Homo sapiens: one gene and its partner. The protein of the gene in region 2 purifies or fractionates together with the protein of the main gene of each other region. This does not show direct contact. Each region holds a gene or a part of one and is shown on either strand. Other genes may lie near its edges.

The links.
Region 1: the proteins of HBM (region 2) and BPIFB1 purify together in Homo sapiens (affinity purification with mass spectrometry; 2 studies listed by BioGRID and IntAct, with this or other methods). This does not show direct contact.

Annotation. Positions count from the first base shown.
Region 1 is NC_000020.11:33,296,570-33,300,220, reverse strand, and holds part of BPIFB1 (BPI fold-containing family B member 1 precursor), read right to left. Parts: intron 2,697-3,651; coding exon 2,633-2,696; intron 2,105-2,632; exon of another isoform or gene 1,377-2,104; intron 1,151-1,376; exon of another isoform or gene 368-1,150; intron 323-367; coding exon 237-322; intron 1-236. UniProt on the Homo sapiens protein: May play a role in innate immunity in mouth, nose and lungs. Binds bacterial lipopolysaccharide (LPS) and modulates the cellular responses to LPS.
Region 2 is NC_000016.10:164,392-167,329, reverse strand, and holds HBM (hemoglobin subunit mu), read right to left. Parts: upstream 1,353-2,938; 5' UTR 1,333-1,352; coding exon 1,241-1,332; intron 1,063-1,240; coding exon 858-1,062; intron 751-857; coding exon 622-750; 3' UTR 566-621; downstream 1-565.

The DNA of each region.
Region 1 (3,651 bases), on a different chromosome or scaffold from region 2:
CCCACTCGGGCCCCCCCATGTCACTCTGGGTGACAGTGAGACTCAGTCTCAAAAAAACAAAACAAAACAAACTTGCATGGGACATATTCAGCCTGCAGTGATTTTTCTAGATCAGCCCGTGTCCTAATGGTGACCAGGATTTTCTCTCCTAACACAGGCCCATGCTATCTGACTCCTGGTGGTCAGAGAAGGGCAGCAATGTCCCCACTTCACCCTCAAGGTCCTGGGACACTCACCCCCAGGTAGAGCTGAATGGTGTCACCCTTGATGGCAGGATACAGAAGGTCAAACTCCAGACGGTCAATGCTGAGGGAAATGGGCACTGCTCAAGGACAAGAAGAAAGTTCTGTGAGGGTGGAGGGCAGTATTGGAGGGGGAAGTTGGGGGGCTGCTTCCAGGTGGAGCTGTACTGTTGCATGGGGGGGCAGGTAGGGAGGAGCAGGTAATAATGATGTTGATAATAATGATGCAAACAGTGATGACAGTGACATTTATCGAGCATCCACTAAGTGCCAGGCCTCTGCATGTCAGCTGGTTCATCTGCATGATAACGTTAGGAAGTAGGTCTTATTATTACCCCCTTTTACAGATGGTGAAACCAAGTCTGAGGAAAGGGAAATGACCTGTTCAAAGCCATACTATGAGAGCATGGGAACCCAGTCGGTTTTATGCCAAAGTCCCGGTTTGGAACGGAACTGAACTATTGTATGTAACACTCCACCGCCCCTACCAGACTGAAAGCCGCGTCCCCCATGCAGGTGGTTCTGGGTCTGGACACCCTATGAGCACCTGGATCTCAAGGAAGCTTAGGCTGGAAGCCAGAGGCCTGGTAACATCTACTCTGAAATCCAAACTGGCTCCTCTGCTCCCCCCAAAGATCTCGTGTTCGCGTCAGAATTCCCCACTTGGCCGCCAGGTGGCGGTGGTGTGTCACCTGCCCCGGTGTATGGCCGAGGATGGGGAGTGCTGGAGGGCCAGGGACCGGCCGCCTACCGCTCCAGGGAGACCTCCGGGCCCGTCCTCGGGGCAGCGGAGGAGCCAGCTGGACTTCGGTTTGAGCCCCAGTGACCTTGGCTGGTCTCTTCTCGCGTCTGAATCTGTTTCCTCGTCTTAAAATGAGGGTATAGTGCCCGCCAGGGCAGCACATGTACTAAAATCGGAAGGACATAGAGACGATGAGCATGACTCCTGTAAAAATTACTTTAAAAAAAGAAAAAAGGTCCGTCTCCAAAAAAAAAAAAAAAGTATATTAAAGTCAATAAGGTCCCCGAAAATGGCTATAACAACAACAAAAAAATGTGATTTACAAAGAGAAATCTACAGACTTGTCAACAAAATGTAATGTGTGAACTCTGGATCCTACTCTGAATACTGACCAAATATCTGACGATTGGAAGAACTCTTTGGGAATTAAAAAAAAAAAAAAGAAAAAAGGAAAGAAACGGCGGTAGAATAGTAATTCCTGCTTCATGTATACAACTGGCACCTAGTAACGGCTCAATCCGAATGACACTCGCTCAGAACTCAAGTCTTCCTCTATCACCAACTGCCTCTGTGAACTTGGACAGTGACTTCATTGCTCGGAGCCTCTTTCATCACAGTGAAGGGGGGTCATGACTGCCACCTCATGGAGTTGTCTGAGGAGTCAGTGAGATGTGCCTATACAAAACACCCAGCGGGAGGGCGTGGCCCATGGCAGATGCCCTGTGGCGCTCAGTGCATGCTGCTCTCCCTTCTCCTCTCTGGTCGCCCTTGGAATGAGCCTCTTCTGATCCCAAAGTGCAGTTGGTAGACTTTTCTTCTTCTCCGCCAGTTTCCACTCTGGGGGCCTGAGCATGGCAGAGTTCTGATGTGGGGGCAGGAGCCTGTGCCCTCCCGTATCTGCTATGCTGGGGGAGGGAGAAATGACTTCCTTCCGTCTTTGCCCTTCGAATCATCTCTGATTTTTATTTTTTAAACCAGATATCTCAGTTTTTAACCCATGCTTTAATTTCTCAGATACCTCAAACCCTTTGGATGGAGGGAAAATTTGAAACTGCAACGAGATGGATAGAACTATTTGATGCTGCAGTTTTCTAAAGTATCCATAAAAACTAGTCCGGGGGCTGCGTGTGATGGCTCATGCTTGTAATCTTAGCATCTTCTGTCTGTCCATCCATCCATCCATCCATCTATCCATCCATCCATTTAGCATGCATTTGTAAGTGCTTCTCTGTGCCAAGAGGGACACCTGCTATGTGCCCAGAACTTTCCTGTAGACTTTTATTCCTCACTAACAATCCTATGTTGTAGGGATGGTTAAGCCCCATTTTATGGATGAGGAAACCGAGGATGAGGAGGTAAATTAGCTTTCCCAAAGTCATGGAGCAAGTCAGGGGCAGAGCTGGGATTTGAACTTGGGGCATCCACTGACCTGACAACTGCACAAATAGTAAGAGCTCATGAAGTCCTAGTCGTGGCGAATTTCTGTCTGCGCGTCTGGGGCAGGGATCAACTGATGCTTGTCTCACCTGCTTCTGGGCCTGAGTTGCAGCTCAGGCCTGACTTGGGGAGGCCTTCCCTTGGTGGAGTCAGGGTCTGGAGGCCAGCTCCGTAGTAAAGGAAAAAGTGGGAGAGAGAGCAGAGCACCTACCCTTCACCAGCTGCAGGAGGTCTGCATACATGCCATTGAAGGAAGCCTCGATCACGGGACACAGCTGCAACAGCATAAGCAAGGGGCTCCATCAGGGAGGGGCCAGAATGCAGCCCCACAGCAGCCCCGGGCTGTGCCCAGCCCACCTGGCCTGTGTCCTACTGCTGTGCCCATGGCCAGCCAGGTTCCATCCATGGGTTGAGGATTCATTCGTGTGTTGAACCCAGCCTGCAGGGCCACCTGGGACCTTTTGCAGTGGTTTGTCCCTTTCCCTGTGCCCAGGGTGTGCTTGGCCTGCCAGCAGCCCTCCCTCTCTGACTCCTTGTCTTGCTCACAGGTGTCTATGTTTTCCATGAGAGTGAAATGGAGGCTGGGCGCAATGGCTCATGCCTGTAATCCCAGCACTTTGGGAAGCCAAGGTGGGTGGATCGCTTGAGGCCAGGAGTTTGAGACCAGCCTGGCCAGCATGGTGAAACCTCATCTCTACTAAAGATACAAAAAGCCAGGCATGGTGGTGCACTCCTGTAATCCAAGCTACTTGGTTGGCTGAAGCACAAGGATTGCTTGAACCTGGGAGGTGGAGGTTGCAGTGAGCTGGAATCGTGCTACTGCACTCCAGCCTGGGTGACAGAGCAAGACTCTACTTTAAAAGAAAAAACAAGAGTTAAATGGAGAATTTGTTTATTCATACAGCAAGTTGCTACTGAGTTCTTTTCACATGTCAGACTCTGGAACAGAGGCCAGCAAGGCAGACCCAACCAGACTCCTGGGCAATCTCTTTGTGCCCTTTGTGGCTTTCTAGCCCAACACATCCCTTTGCTCACTGGGCACTTCTCTTCCTAAAATTGCCAGCAGTCCTCAACAGGGGGAGATTTTGTCCCCAAGGAGACATTTGGAAATTTCTAGAGACATTTTTAGTTGTCACAACTTGGAGGGGATGACAACTAGTGGGTAGAGGCCAGGGATGCAGCTAAACATCCTACTGTGCATAGGACAGCATCCAGACAAAGAATTATCCA
Region 2 (2,938 bases):
GACTAAACCTGCTCTGTCTGCCAAATTGTGGCCACTGAGGACTTCCTCCCGACCTCATCCCCAGGGCTGCAGGGTCACAGGGAGGGCTAACCAGGCTAGCGCAGGTTTGCCACTGAGGAAGTGTCCATGGGGGAAGGAAGGGGAAAGGAACAGGTCTGCGGAGCCCTCTGCTCTGGGCCAACGAATTAGGTTGCACATTTGGCTCTGGGACCTCAGTTTCTGCATCTCTCTGCAAAAAGGGCCAGGATTAGCATCTACAGGTCCCAGCAGGAAGTGGGGATGGAGGGAGAATGAATGAATAAATGCGTGAATGGGGAAGTGCTTTGCGAACAGTATGGTTGGAAGCCCGATTCAAGGGTTGAAGTCGAAGGCCACCCTCCCTACCCCCGCCACATCACAGTGCTCCCTCTGCCCCATCGCACTCCTCGCCATGGGAGGACAAACCTCCGGGGGTGGGGCGCATTTGAGAGTTCTAGGAGGCTCCTTTTAGGTCCCTGAGCTTCACTGGCCAACAATAGTGACCTCGCTTTGCTAGCTCCCCAAAGACCACACAGGCAGGGGCAGATGGTTCGGGCCTCTGTTTATTGACAGGCACAGACCAAGGCCTGCGCAGCACAGGGCTCAGCGGTATTTTTCGGTCAGCACCACGGCCACACCAGTCAGGAACTTGTCCCACGCCGCTTGCATTTGCACGGTGAACTCGTCCTGCAGGTGGGAGGCCAGCACGACGTGGAAACACTGGATTAGCAGCTGCAGGAGAAGGGGCCGGTGAGACGGGGTCTGCCCCGCTAGGGACCCCCAGAGCCCCCCCACCCCGGCTGCGCGCTGCACCATTGCCCCGGCCGGAAAGGCCTCACCGGAAAGTTGGCTGGGTCCACGCGCAGCACGAGCGCGTGCAGGTCCGCCAGCGGGCTCAGCGCGGCGCGCAGGTTGTCCACGTGCTGCACCGCCGCGCCCACAGCCGCCAGCATGCGCTGCCCGTGGCTCAGCAGCTGCGTCGCGTCCTGGCAGGCGCTCAGGTGCGGGAAGTAGACCTTGGTGCTGGGGTACACCGTGAAGAGCCTGCAGGACCAGGTCAGTGACCGGGGAGGAGGGCGGCTGCGTGGGGCTTCACTAGCGCCCACACCGCCCAGAGCCCGGGGATCCGCACCCGAAGGACCTTGGATGGCGTTGGCGGCCCACGCGCCCAAAACCCTCATCTCCACCTCCCTGAGCTCCCGGAGACCCCGCCTCTACCGACCTGAGCAGCAGCTCCGCCCCGAATTGCGCCTCGTGGCCCGCAATCAGGTCCCAGACCTGCGCGATTTGGGCGCGCTCCTGGGCGCTGAGCATGGCGCCGCCTGACGTGCTCTGGGGGCCGCGCCCGCCGCCCTGGCCTCCTTATAGAGCCTCCGGGCACCCCGCCCGTCCTTATCGGCCCGAGCGCGGCGGGAACGCGGGGACCCTCGGCCTGCGCCGGGGAACGTAACCAGCCCGGGTTCCCGTCTGTGTGGAGGCCTCGACCTCCGGGATCCCAGGGTTTCTGGCATTGACCCACGCCGTTGCGCGTGGGCACCTTTACTGCAGACTTTAGGGGCATCTGTTTACTCCCCTCGGGTAAAGTTACTGCTCTGCCAGGAGGGAGCACATGGGAGGAACCGGAGAGAGAACACCGGGCAGGAAACCCCCTACTCTCTTAGGAGTCGGGGAGGGACCGGCCTCAGGGACCCCCGTAGCTGCCAGAGTCCCGGGATTCGGACGTCAGGCTTTGTGGAAAAGTTCCCTGAGCCCCGACACGCTTCCAATACGCTTAGTGAAGTGACAATCTTTGTGCGATATGGGAAGCCGGGAGACGCACAAACGCCCGTCCGACTCAAGGACCCCAGGAGACGCCGCGGGCCGGCCCGGGACTGCTCCGCTCCACCCGGGCCGCAGCTCCGGTGCTCAGGGGCTAGAACCTCCCCAAGGCGCCCCCCAAGTGAACCCCAGGCCGCGACGACAGTGGGGACGACCGAGTTCCTGCGAAGCCCCCGGACCCATCACTCAGCTTCTCCCCTCCTTCCCTCCAATACTGAGAACACAGAGCCCAGATCGCTCCGTCCTCATCCATTTATTGGAGTCAGGGCAGGAACTGTGGGAGGGTGAAGGGCAGGGGAGGGGCCGCAGCCTGTCCTGGGGGTCCCGGAGGCGGCGCTCAGCGGTACTTCTCGGTCAGGACAGAGGATACGACCGATAGGAACTTGGCCCAGGCGGCGTGGGCCTCGGCCGTGAAGTCGGCGGGGAAGCGCGCGGCCAGGGTGACCAGCAGGCAGTGGGACAGGAGCTGGGGGCGGGGGCGGCTCAGTGCGGGGGCGGGGCCTAGCCCGGGCCCCGCCCCGCGACCCCACCCCGCCCCGCCCCGCCCCGCGCCCCGCCCCGCGACCCCGCCCCGCGACCCCGCCCCGGCCCGGCCCGCCCCGCCCCGCGCCCCGCCCCGCCCAGCCCCTCCCCGCCCCGCCCCGCCCCGCCGGGCCCCGGCCGCCCCGCCCGCCCCGCCCCGCCCCGCCCCGCCCCGCGACCCCGCCCCGCCCCGCGACCCCACCCCGCCCCGCCCCGCGACCCCGCCCCGCGGCCCCGCCCGCCCCGCGGCCCCGCCCCGCCCCGCCCGCACCGCGCCCCGCGCACCTTGAAGTTGACCGGGTCCACGCGCAGGATGTAGGCGTGCAGCTCGCTCAGCTTGGACAGGGCGCCGCCGATGTCGTCGATGCTCTTCACCGCGTCGCCCACGGCGGCCACCACCTTGGAGCCGTGCGCGCGCAACTGCGCGGACCCCGGGTGCAGGTCGAAGTGCGGGAAGTAGGTCTTGGTCTGCGGGTGGCTGAGGAAGAGCCTGGGACGGGGGGCGGGGGCCGTGAGCTCCCAGCAGCGCGGCCTCCCGCCACGGCCCACGCGCCCTGCGGCCCTCTCCGAGCACCGGGAC